3 separate regions of the Homo sapiens genome follow, and all the other regions are reported to be linked to region 1. The links are microRNA targets in miRTarBase. Many come from high-throughput screens and were not tested one by one. Region 1 holds a microRNA gene; each other region holds the end of a gene's coding sequence. Distances are from middle to middle.
What was found. Region 1 holds the annotated microRNA hsa-miR-3159 (UAGGAUUACAAGUGUCGGCCAC, at 1,991-2,012, opposite strand). A microRNA usually pairs through its seed, bases 2 to 8, with sites in the 3' UTR of a target mRNA and lowers its output. Matches are read on the target gene's strand: a 7mer-m8 pairs with bases 2 to 8, a 7mer-A1 pairs with bases 2 to 7 and ends in A, and an 8mer does both.

Region 2: miRTarBase lists CTNND1 as a target of hsa-miR-3159. Seed matches in the 3' UTR shown: 7mer-A1 at 1,833-1,839 and 7mer-m8 at 2,063-2,069.
Region 3: miRTarBase lists NME6 as a target of hsa-miR-3159. Seed matches in the 3' UTR shown: 8mer at 2,680-2,687.

The regions. Positions count from the first base shown.
Region 1 is chr11:18,385,608-18,389,807 of GRCh38, reverse strand. MIR3159 (microRNA 3159) reads right to left here and starts at 2,021; the gene lies at 1,948-2,021.
Region 2 is chr11:57,815,792-57,819,991 of GRCh38, forward strand. It overlaps CTNND1 (catenin delta 1), which reads left to right. Exons shown (of 21, transcript NM_001085458.2): 20 at 124-210; 21 at 506-3,749. The coding sequence ends at 517. TMX2-CTNND1 (TMX2-CTNND1 readthrough (NMD candidate)) reads left to right here. Exons shown (of 21, transcript NR_037646.1): 21 at 506-3,389. Among named protein-coding and RNA genes, the nearest start is that of CTNND1, 56 kb to the left of the region's middle.
Region 3 is chr3:48,291,325-48,295,503 of GRCh38, reverse strand. It overlaps NME6 (NME/NM23 nucleoside diphosphate kinase 6), which reads left to right. Exons shown (of 6, transcript NM_001308426.2): 5 at 269-429; 6 at 701-3,187. The coding sequence ends at 867. It also overlaps the pseudogene FCF1P2. Among named protein-coding and RNA genes, the nearest start is that of NME6, 8.0 kb to the left of the region's middle.

The DNA of each region.
Region 1 (4,200 bases):
CACCACAATGCCCGGCTAATTTTTATATTTTTAGTAGAGACGGGGTTTCTCCATGTTGTCCAGCCTCGTCTTGAACTCCTGGGCCCAAGCCATCTGCCTACCTCAGCCTCCCAAATAAATTAATTCATATTTGTATATGTCTCTGTCACTGAACTGTAAGCTCCTAGTGCAAATAAACTTTTTTTCCACTGGGAAACTTTCTTTCCACTAGGAAAAAATGTTTTCCTAGCACAGGGCAAGAAGTTTTCCTAGCACCGGGCACAGTGGCTCATCCTTCTAATACCAGCACTTTGGGAGGCTGAGGCAGGAGGATCGCTTTAGCCCAGGAGTTTGAGAGCAGCCTAGGCAAAATAACAAGACCTCATCTCTACGAGAAAAAAAAAATTAGCTGGGCATGGTGGCGTGTGCCTGTAGTCCCAGCTACTCGGGAGACTAGGGTGGCAGAATTGCTTGAGTCCAGAAGGTTGAGGCTGCAGTGAGCTATGATCGCTCCACTGCACTCCTGCCTGGGAGACAGAGTGAAACCCTGTCTCAAAAACAAACAACAACAACAACAAAAAGGCTGGGCACGGTGGCTCACCCCTGTAATCCCAACACTTTGGGAGGCCGAGGCTGGCGGATCACGAGGTCAGGAGTTCGAGACAAACTGGACAACATGGTGAAACCTTGTCTCTACTAAAAACACAAAAATTTGCCGGGTGCGGTGGCAGGCACCTGTAATCCCAGCTACTCGGGAGGCCGAGGCAGGAGAATTGCTTGAACTCAGGAGGCGGAAGTTGCAGTGAGCCAATATTGCGCTACTGCACTCCAGCCTGGGTGACAGAGCAAGACTCCATCTCAGAAAACAAACAAAAAAACCCCACAAGTTTCTCATTTATCTCCATAACCCAACACATACATTTATTTGTTTAACAAATATATTTTGAATTAAATGCCTGCTATGTAAAGGGACTGTGCTAGGTATTGGGGATACAAAAATGAATACAACAAACTTATAAGCCTTCGAAGACTTTCGTATTTAGTGGAGGAAACTGACAGCCTCGCCCTTAATAGTCAGAATGCATAAGAGAATGTAACTACTGCAAAAGAGGTAGAGAAAAGTGCTCTGCCATTCAGAGGAGAGAGGGCATTTGGGTAAGGATACCAAAAAAGGCTTCCTGGAAGAGGTAGCATCTGAGCTGCAGCTAGAAGAGGATTTTAATTGGTAAAGATCAGGGGCTGAGAAAGCAGAGAACAAAGCATGAATAAAATGCACAGGGGCAGGAAAATACATGGTGAGTCTGGTTAATCTTTAGCCTTAAATGCCAGGCTAAGAAATTTGGGGGAGACAGGGTATGCTGGCTGACATTTGTTTTTTTTTGTTTTTTTTGTTTTTTGAGACAGAGTCTCACTCTGTCGCCCAGGCTGGAGTGCAGTGGCGCAATCTCGGCTCACTGCAAGCTCCGCCTCCGGGGTTCACGCCATTCTCCTGTCTCAGCCTCCCGAGTAGGTGGGACTACAGGCGCCTGCCACCGCGCCCGGCTAATTTTTTGTATTTTTAGTAGAGACGGGGTTTCACCGTGTTAGCCAGGATGGTCTCGATCTCCTGACCTTATGATCCGCCCCCCTCGGCCTCCCAGAGTGCTGGGATTACAGGCGTGAGCCACCGCGCCCGGCCAACACTTGTTTTTTTGTTCTTGTTTGTTTGGTTGGTTGGTTGATTGTTTTTGAGATGGAGTCTCGCTCTGTTGCCAGGCCAGAGTGCAGAGGCGCGATCTCCGCTCACTGCAAGCTCCGCCTTCCGGGTTCAAGCTATTCTCCTGCCTCAGACTCCCGAGTAGCTGGGACTACAGGCGCGCACCATTACACACAGCTAATTTTTTCGTATTTTTAGTAGAGACGAGGTTTCACCATGTTGGCCAGGATGGTCTCGATCTTCTGACCTCGTGATCCACCCAGATCTGTCTCCCAAAATGCTGGGATTACAGGCGTGAGCCACTGTGCCCAGCCCGTGGCCGACACTTGTAATCCTAGGACTTTGGGAGCCTGAAGCAGGAGGATTGCTTGAGCCCAGGAGATTGAGGCTGCAGTAAGTCATGCTTACACCACTGAACTCCAGCCTGGGCAACAGAGTAAGGAAAGGAAGGCACCAGGATTTTTTTTAGTAATACACAACATACAGATCTACAACATGTACAGACCATATACAGCTCCAACCACATGTGTTCAGAACATACACTTCTCATACAACCCTAGACAGCCCCACAGTCCCTTCAAACCCTCACTGACAGCCTGACTCTTTTTTTTACCTTTTCTGTGGTTGCAAAACTGATGGCTTTCCTGAGTTGCAGGGCCCAAGATGCAGACAACCTCATCAGTCTCTGTTCCTGAGATACCAGGGCCTACTATGTACGTACCAAAGTAGAGGCTCCTCTCTTTGGCATGAGAGCAGGCACCTGCTCCTGAGAAACTCCTTCATGTCCCTCTCCTCATCCCAAGCCCCATCTGTCTCTCAGATGACAGGAATGGATGCCAGAAGACTCCACCCTGACTGTTCAGGTTCTCCTGGGTGACAACCCCTGGTCCCCTAATGCCTGTCTCCTCCTCCTCACCCGCTCCTCCTCCAGGCAAGGCTCATCCTCAGGCACAAGATGCTGCCTGCATTTCCTCTTTTGGCTTGGACCATCATTCCCTCCAGAATTCATTCCTCACACTGTTCCCTAATAAAATCCATCTCAAAAACTCTAGATTCCTTCCCAGCCACTTCCTAACCCAGGAAATAAGTAGCAGCTGTGTCCTTTCTCTCCCTCTTTCCCTGGCTGGGATTTGGGCCTCAAGCTTCCCATCCCACTGAGAAGTTCCAGAGCAAAGACTGTCACCAGAATTTAAGTGACTTCCAAACCCAGGGCCCCCAAAATCAGTGCTGCAGAGGGAGTCCCAAGGCCCCTTCAAGCCAGACAGTCACCAGTGGCACCCACAAGCAGAAACTGTCTGTTGTCTAATCACAGCAGGGGAGGACCATGAAAAGTTGTGATAGCCTTTCCCTCTGACACCTTGGGTGGCAAGGACAGTGATGGGCATGGCGGGACAGAGACGACGGGGCAGCTGATGGATAGGGGACACTGGCCTGGGGGTCAGGAAACATGTATTCTTACCCCAGCTATGTCATGGACACCTGGGTAACATTGTGGCAGTTGCATTCCCTCTGTAGCCTCAGCACCCTTGACTGCAAACATAAAAGGATCTCTCTTGGCCGGGTGCGGTGGCTCATGCCTGTAATCCCAGCACTTTGGGAGGCCGAGGCAGGTGGATCGCTTGAGGTCAGGAGTTCAAGACCAGCCTGGCCAACATGGCGGAATGTCATCTCTACTAAAAATACAAAAATTAGCCGGGCTCTATAGTGGGCTCTTGTGATGCTAGCTACTCAGGAGGCTGAGGTACGAGCATCGAACCCAGGAGGCGGAGGTTGCAGTGAGCCCAGACAGCGCCACTGCACTCCAGCCTGAGCGACAGAGCGAGACTCCATCTCAAAAAGAAAAAAAAGGGCCTCTTTCTTCCAGCTGTAATGTCCAAGGAGGCTCTGCGGTAGTGAGTCCAGCTTCCACACAACACACCTTCATTTTTACAATGCTCAGGACTCAGAGGCAAAGCGCTCCCCATTTTGGGAAGTGATCAGGACTGCTCCTGAGATAAGGGAGAAATGCCTATGGCGACAGGAAACCTATGCCTGCCATCCTCTTGTCCCCCATATTAGTTCCAAAACAGGATCCCAAATGCCCAGTACACTGGTGGGTGTTTGTTAAATTTGTTAACAAAAACTATCTTGGCCAGGCGCGGTGGCTCACGCCTATAATCCCAGCACTTTGGGAGGCCGAGGCCGGGGGATCACGAGGTCAGGAGATTGAGACTATCCTGGCTAACAGGGTGAAACCCCGTCTCTACTAAAAATAATAATAATTTAAAAAATTAGCCGGGCGTGGTGGCGGGCGCCTGTAATCCCAGCTACTCGGAAGGCTGAGGCAGGAGAATGGCGTGAACCTGAGAAGAGGAGCTTGCAGTGAGCCGAGATCGTGCCACTGCACTCCAGCCTGGGCGACAGAGCAAGACTCTGTCTCAAAAAAAAAAAAAACTATCTTGGGCCTGGCGCAATGGCTCACGCCTATAATTCCAGCACTTTGGGAGGCCGAGGCGGGTGGATCACTTGAGGTCAGGCATTCAAGA
Region 2 (4,200 bases), 39 Mb from region 1:
CCTTCTCTTACTATTATATCTTGTTTTGTTTGAGTTTACAAATTTTCAGAGTTTCCCTAGCTCTGGCACACACTCATGAGGTTCCTGTCTCTACTCATACTAACAAATTGCATGTGTTCACAGCAGGACGAGGGGCAGGAATCTCTGGAGGAAGAGTTGGATGTGTTGGTTTTGGATGATGAGGGGGGCCAAGTGTCTTACCCCTCCATGGTATGTCCTTCAGTCACCCCCAAGATTGTTCTTGAGGAAGGAGGCTCCTGAGTGCCAGCAACTTGTCAATCACGCTAATCTGATCAGGCCAGAGACTAAGTAGTCTCAGCCACATGGGGCTCGAGGGGTTCTGCTTTTGTGATTATTACCTCTTACGAGTCTGGGACATGCAGCTGGTGATCTGATTCTCCGTTATGTGCTGCTTTCCTTTCTCCAGATTTGCTCAACTTTTTTGGGGGGGGTCTCCTTAATCCCAACCCCATTAACATTCTCTCTTTCTCTTTTTTCTCCACAGCAGAAGATTTAGCACCACTATCTCCGTTCCATCTGGGCTTATATGTACTTTTATTTTTTGGTGGTGAAATTGACTGATGATTTTCCTTTTTCTTCGCTGGACTATTGTGCCAACTGCCAGGCTGCCTCCTGCCCTTACAGCCCTAAGTGGCTGCCTTCTTTCCATCAACTCCCAACTTCTTCCTGTGAAGTTTAATTGTCTCAACGCCTCCCCCTCCCCCATTCCCTCCATTTTTCTCCCAAGAAACCTGACTCAATTATTTGCATATTTTGAGAAACTGCTGCAGATTAGTTCTTTTTGCCAGTTTTCCCTGGAACTCCTGGCCTTTTGTGGAGGGGAGGGATGGAGAGAATAGGAATCTTCACTAGAAGCCGTGGGAAGAATTGGAAGTTACATGCTGTATATGCAATGTCCAGCAGTCTGATAAACTGACGATTCTTAATCAAGATTTTTTTCCTGATGGGGAAGGGACTTTTATTTTCTTTTAGAGAGGGGAAAGTGTGAGCTCTTCCCTTATTCCTAATGGCTATTTTTGAAGCAAAGAAGGCCAGCAACATTGGCACATGCCACCTGGCAAAGGACCCTTGAGTAAGTGAAGGTCTCCTAAAACTGGGATTAAGAAACCTTGCTCTCCTCATCTCCAAGGCAGGGACCATCAAGAACCTACAGACTCCATCTCTTCTGCAAGCCTCATGCCAACCCTGGGCTATTGCTGCTGCCCCTTAAACACAGGCTGTCCTTAACCCACCTCTCCTGCCCTGTGATATGTCTGCTGAGTTGGCCTGGCCATTTCCAAGAGGCTGTAGAAAGGGGAGAATGTCAAGGAAGACTTTTGGTAGAGAAGGAGCAGAAAGATGTGTTTTTGGGAAGAAGAAGACCTCTAGGAGGAGCTAGTAGGAATGTACATGAAGCAATTAGTCTGAAACTGGCTTCCCCACTCCCCCGTTTCTCCTTTTCCTATCCTTATAGGCCTGTCCCTTGCCTCTGCCCTGGATTGGTTGGCAAACTAAAGGACTTGATGTACATAACTCCTGTCCCTTTTCCCTTACAAGGTGGGGATTGCCCCTGGCTTTGCCTCTTCTTTGTGCCTTTGGCCTGGGGTGCATCTCCTCCCGCCCTTCCATGTGCCTTTCTTTGCCTCTGCAGTCTCATTTCTCATAATTTTGCAAATTATATTTTGTTGCTTTCTTACCTACTATTGGCCCTAAATAGCAGAAAGAAGAGAAGTGACCGAGAGAACCTCAGATTCTTCATTGAGGATTGGTATAGCCATGATTTCAGTCATAGCAAGCTTTTGCTCAACAGCATATGGGTGGGATTTTGCAAAAATCCTATTCTGATGAATCTCAAAGTAAGGCTGGTAAGAGAAGTGAGTGGTGTGACTCTTACTCCTTAGGTGCCCAGAATTTACCATCATCTCTGAAGGAGTTACAGGGAAGTGGTCTCCCCAATTCTCCCCTCCCTCCAGTATTGCCCCCTCTCACTTTAGCATATATTAATTAGCAGGTTGGGCTAGAGAAATCAGCTGCTATGCGGGTTGATTATTATTATTATTTCTAATCCTTTTCCTTATTTGCCTTCTACTCCCCTTAATCTAATCTAAAAGCTCTGTTCCATGCAACTGGAGTTCCTTATCCCTCTCTTCCCCTTCCCTTATATATTGAGGCTATGGGGTAGGAGAAAAGTGCACAACCCACCACCCCCTTTACTCGTGCATTAAAATTTCTTATTTACCCTTTTCCCCCTTCCCATTTCTTCCCACTTTCATCTACCTTTTCTGGCAAAAAGGAGCCTTTTGCTCTCTGTGACCCTAAGAGCACACTGCACAGGGAAAATTGCCCCATCCAGACCTGGCTCCACTCTTGATCTCTCTTGTCCTCTTCTGCTCTTTTCCTGGTGCTCTTTTTTCTCGGTGGGGTGTGGGTAATAGAACAGCCGTGGGCTTTTGGGGACCTTTAACTTTTTTTTCTCTCTTTTGTTTATAAAAAACACTAAACATTCAATTCCAGAGAACCAAAAATCCCACCTTCCCACCGAACACTACTAAGGGGCTTGTGTTCTGCTCCATACCTTTTCTCTTTTCTTTCTGTCTTGTTAATGCTTTTAAAAACAAATGAGTTTTTTATATAAATAAAGTTTTTAAAGTGTGTATGTGGGGGGTCTGTGTCATTTCTTCACTTCAAGCTGTTATTTCTTCCCTGCTTTGCATCTTTGTTACTTCCTTATGTATCAGTGTCCTTTCCAGAGCAACCAGAAGGAGGTTATACCAGGATTTATTTTGAGCTCAGCCCCAACTCTTTATCAAGCAACATTCTTGTTAACTATATGTGAAACATTTTTTCTTCTGAAGATTCTTAAAAATTGAATGTGGCTGAAGTTGAACATGGGAGCTTATTGCTAATTTAGAGATAGGAAACTGAAGCATAAAGAATTAATGACTTACTTTAATTACTGGAATTCTTCTGCAACATTTGACAAAACTAACCTTGAATAAGGCCCACTGTAATACGTAGCTCTCTTAAATATAACACTTAGGACTAGAAGATTAGAAACTACCAATCCCAACTACGTAATAGGAAAATGTAGGATCAAAAGGCCCATGTATATAAGTACTGACCACTGGGCCATAATGTTGCTTCTCAGGCTATATGCAGTCCTTTAGTCAGAAGTCAATAGGCCTATTTATTAATATTTTACAGACCATATTACCTGGATTACCAGGGACTATCTTTGCTGCAGAGATCAAGGGTTAAGATCTATGGGAAGATACTTATTTTTCTGAGGTCCTTATGTCCTGTCATATAATTAAAGACTCAAGAGAATTTATGTGAAATGCTTTCTGTATGCCCAAATCTTTAGATTAAAATTATATAGCTGCTCCTGATGATGGTCCTGTCTTGTTTTATTGAACTAGGACTTGGGTATGAAAACTTTCATGGGCTAGTGAGACCAGGAAATCAACTAGCTTTTAAAGCTTGATTTGTGTCTAACAATTGTAGTGTTAGATTAGAGGTTGAAGTACAAAGCCAAAAAGCTATTAAGAGTTTACTTTCCAAAGAGTTTTGATAGCCCTGCTTGAGATGATTTTTATCTAAATAGAAAAGCCTGGCTGCTTGTCAGCAACACTTTATTTCCCTGTTATGTTCTTATCCTTTGGCATTGAGCTAGATACAAACCCTACTCTTCTCTCTTCCTTCTGGATTGGTCCATTTGTTTATCTCATTCAATAAATATTTGCCAAGCACCTCCTATATGCTAAGCGTTGTGTCAAGGTTAGGTTTAGATTAGAGAGTGAAACAGATGGATCTTTTCTCATAGATTGCAATCCATGAGAATCCTCTATAGCTAAGATCTATGATCAGACGAGATCGTGTGCGTTCAGGGTGATATGGCCATAGACAAGATCTATGATCTTAAAAACACTTCTCTCTGTGCCATATCTAAATACAATGAGATGTTACACAGAATGATGTGTAAAGGCCCTATCTCACAAGTTTCTTGACACTGATGTACTTTGTGACAGAGGTCAAAGCTGGGACCTCACTTGGCCACTTTTTTTTTTTTAGACAGAGTCTTGCTCTGTCACTCAGGGGCACAATCTCGGCTCACTGCAACCTCAGCCTCCTGGGTTCAAGCGATTCTTCTGCCTCAGCCTCCCGAGTAGCTGGGATTACAGGTGTGTACCACCACGCCTG
Region 3 (4,179 bases), not on the chromosome of region 1:
ACTGAGCCGATGCTGACCTGTTAGGCACCTGTCCTCTGGTGGTTAGAAGAGTCCCCTTGAATGCTGCATAGCCACCCTGCTGATCTCTGCAGGCTTGATGTACACCAGCAGGGGCCCTGCATCACCTATTTGAAGCAGCATTGGTACTCAGCTGGAAAGGCAGGAAAACTCTCAGAACGTAGAGTGTGTTTTTATTCAGGCCCTGCTCACAGCACACCCTCCTAGTCTAGATGGCCAGGTTCTTTACATGTGCTTGTTTTGTTCACAGCGGGCCAATCCGAGCCTACATCCTTGCCCACAAGGATGCCATCCAGCTCTGGAGGACGCTCATGGGACCCACCAGAGTGTTCCGAGCACGCCATGTGGCCCCAGATTCTATCCGTGGGAGTTTCGGCCTCACTGACACCCGCAACACCACCCATGGTTCGGGTGAGTCCCCTGTCCATAGCCATAGGATATTTTGGGGTTAGCGGGCAGGCTGTGTGGTAGAGTTGACAGCCAGGTCCCTCCAGTGAGCTTTCTTCCATTTGTGTTTCTGGTCTTTGTAGCCATGTTGGCAGATGTGGCCTGTGGACTTTCTTTACATGCCCCAGGACTGAAGGGGCAGGCAGAGTAGAGGCTCAGGATTCTGAACCTGATTATGACTGCCTCTTGCTTCTACCATGTGAGAACCCCTTCTCTGTCTTATCTCCCCTTACAGACTCTGTGGTTTCAGCCAGCAGAGAGATTGCAGCCTTCTTCCCTGACTTCAGTGAACAGCGCTGGTATGAGGAGGAAGAGCCCCAGTTGCGCTGTGGCCCTGTGTGCTATAGCCCAGAGGGAGGTGTCCACTATGTAGCTGGAACAGGAGGCCTAGGACCAGCCTGATGCAGGTCTATGAAGACCAGTGGTAGTGCCCAGACTTCTCCTAGACATCTAGTCTAAAACATTCTCCTAGGACCAGGGAAGCCTGGCTTACAGTGCCATTTCTGCTGGGCACCACCACCTGCCTGAGGGCCTAGCTCACCACAGCACATCCTCCAGGATCTAGCCTTCTATCTACCTCTTCTCTGGAATGTTTATGGTGGTTCAGAAGAATGATGACTCCTCTTTGCTGAGAACTGTTCATCCTTCTTCAAGAAGAAGCTTGCCAGGCCGGGCACGGTGGCTCACGCCTATAATCCCAGCACTTTGGGAGGCCGAGGCAGGCGGATCACAAGGTCAGGAATTCGAGACCAGCCTGACCAACATGGTGAAACCCCATCTCTACTAAAAATACAACAATTAGCCAGGCATGGTGGTGCATGCCTGTAATCCCAGCTACTCAGAGGCTGAGGCAGGAGAATTGCTTGAACCTGGGAGGCAGAGGGTGCAGTGAGCCGAGATCGTGCCATTGCACTCCAGCCTGGGCGACATTCTGTCTCAAAAAAAAAAAAAAAGAAGCTTGTCTAATTGACTTGCCTAAAAAATGCAGTGACTCCAAACAACATTTGACCTGTCTTCCTCAATAAAAGTCAGTGTTCTCCTGAATCCTTTATGCTGCCACATTTAGGGGAAACTTTTCAGGCTTCATCATTCTGACTTCTCAGCAGCATTCAGTTATTGCTTCATTCTCCAGAAACACTCTCTTCTCTTGGATTTTCTGATCCCACACCCTTGGTTTTCTCCTTCTGTGTGTTTTTCTTCATCTCCTTTATCAGCTTATGCAAACATTTATTTTCATAAATTCTCTATTCAAGACATACTGAAAAATGCAAAGATGGTTAAGACATGATTGGGTCCTCAAGTTGCTAATTATGAATTTGGGTGGTCAGCCAGCTATAACGTGGCAGAGATGGAGAAGTGCCCTAACAGAGGTATAAAGTCCTGTGGGAGAACAGAGGAAAGAAGGTTTCCTTTGGCTGGGTGAGGAGGTGAAGGAGATAGGGTGGAAAGTCTTTTATAAAAGATATAGCTGGCTTTGGAACTAAGCCTGAAGGTCAAATAGGGTATCCATAGCAGGGGTCTGGGGCACTAGACAGTCTGTTCATTTTCAGGAATATATGGGTCAGTTTTGTATGTGTGACCTAAGAAACCTGTGACACTTCTTACAGGTCTTGACTTTTCTTTCTCAGTACATGTGTATTTCTCTTTTTGGTGGCCTTGAAACCTTTGAGTTGAAAATTGCCTTCACCATCTGCCACTTTCACTAATGGTAGACCAGGAAATTTGGACCCACTGAACATAGAGAACAACTAGAAAAGCTGTGCAAAATATAAACAGCATCTATCTGAAAGCATCAGCTGGCAATATAGAACCAAAATTCAGGACACGAAGGAAACTCAAGAGAAGTGAGCCTGGGACTTAGAGCTACTTTTCCCATAAGGGCACCTGCTGATTCTGGAAGAGGCAGCTAAGAAGCTGAGTAGAACTTTCAACAACTTCTTGTGTTAGGGAGCCAGCTTCATGAATGCTGGCAGAAAACACAGGATTACTTGGGCAGAGACTACTGCTCAGGGCACAGCAGGCAGTGTGTTAGCCTTGGTCTCCCTTGCCCTCCAAGTCCCACAGGGCAATACTGGCAGGCCCAGGAAAGTGTTACACACTGCAGGTTTGCATGACGGCTAAGGAACCACAATCTTAGGGAGATACTATCTCTGTCTTCTAAGGCCATTTGCTGTACAAAAATCCTTGAAATACCTGGGCACAGTGGCACACCTATAATCCTAGCACTTTGGGAGGCTGAGGCAGGCGGATCACCTGAGGTTGGGAGTTCCAGACCAGCCTGACCAACATGGAGAAATCCCGTCTCTACTAAAAATACAAAAATTAGCCAAGCGTGGTGGCGCGAGCCTGTAATCCAGCTACTCGGGAGGCTGAGGCAGGAGAATCGCTTGAACCCAGGAGGCGGAGGTTGTGGTGAGCCAAGATCACGCCGTTGCACTCCAGCCTGGGCAACAAGAGTGAAACTCCATCTCAAGAAAAAAAAAATCCTTGAAATAGTCTGGAACAAAATCTGTCAACATCTCAGCCCACAAAGTATCAACAAAATTGATATTTTGTTGCATTTAAAAAATTTAAATGGTGGTCAAAGCGTACAAAATCTGACAATTAAGACACCCACAAGAGACACAGAATTATCTCCCAATAAAATTGTCTCATAAAAACCTGGCTCCCACAAATATGGAAAGGGAGAAAACTAGAATAAACCCTGTGGTGTCGAATTGGAGATATCAGTGTGAACTCGTGTATTTCAGTCTATAGAGATAGATGTAAATATGTTTTTGTATGTATAGTCCTTTGCACTGATGTGAGAGCAATGACACTCCAATAGTAATGACCACACCCAGCACCCAGGTCCACCAAAAGACAAAGTGCTATGGACTGAATTATATCCCCCTAAAATTCATATGTTGAAGCCCTAACCCCCAATGTGATGATATTTGGAAATGGGACATTTGGGAGATAATTAAGTTTAGATGGCCAGGTATGGTGGCTCACGCCTGTAATCCCAGCACTTTGGGAGGCCAAGGCGGGCGGATCACAAGGTCAGGAGATCGAGACCATCCTGGCTAACACGGTGAAACCCCGTCTCTTCTAAAAATACAAAAATTAGCTGGGTGTGGTGGCACGCACCTGTAGTCCCAGCTACTTGGGAGGCTGAGGCAGAAGAATTGCTTGAACCCAGGAGGTAGAGTTTGCAGTGAGCCAAGGTAGTGCTACTGCACTCCAGCCTGGGTGAAAGAGCGAGACTCCGTCTCAAAACAAAATGAAACAAAACAAAACAAACTATTGCCTATAGCAAACCAATTGTAGCCTGGGCAACATAGTGAGACCCTGTCTCTATAAAAACTAAAAATAGGCTGGGCGCAGTGGCTCATTCCTGTAATTCCAACACTTTGGGAGGCTGAGGGGGGAGGATCACTTAAGTCCAGGAGTTTGAGACCAGCCTGGGCAACATGGTGAGACCCCTGTGTCTACAAAAATAAAAATAAAAAACTTAGCTGGGTGTGGTGGTGCATGCTTGTGTCCCAGCTACTTGGGAGGCAAAGTGGGAGGATTGCTTGAGCCTGAGAGATTGAGGCTTCAGTGCAGTTTGAGCCACTGCACACACTCCAGCCTGGGTGACAGTGAGACCCTGTCTTAAAAAAATAAGAGTATGACATGAGCATGTGAGAGCAAAAGAAAACAAGGAAGTCTGCGACCATGAAGCGAATGCTT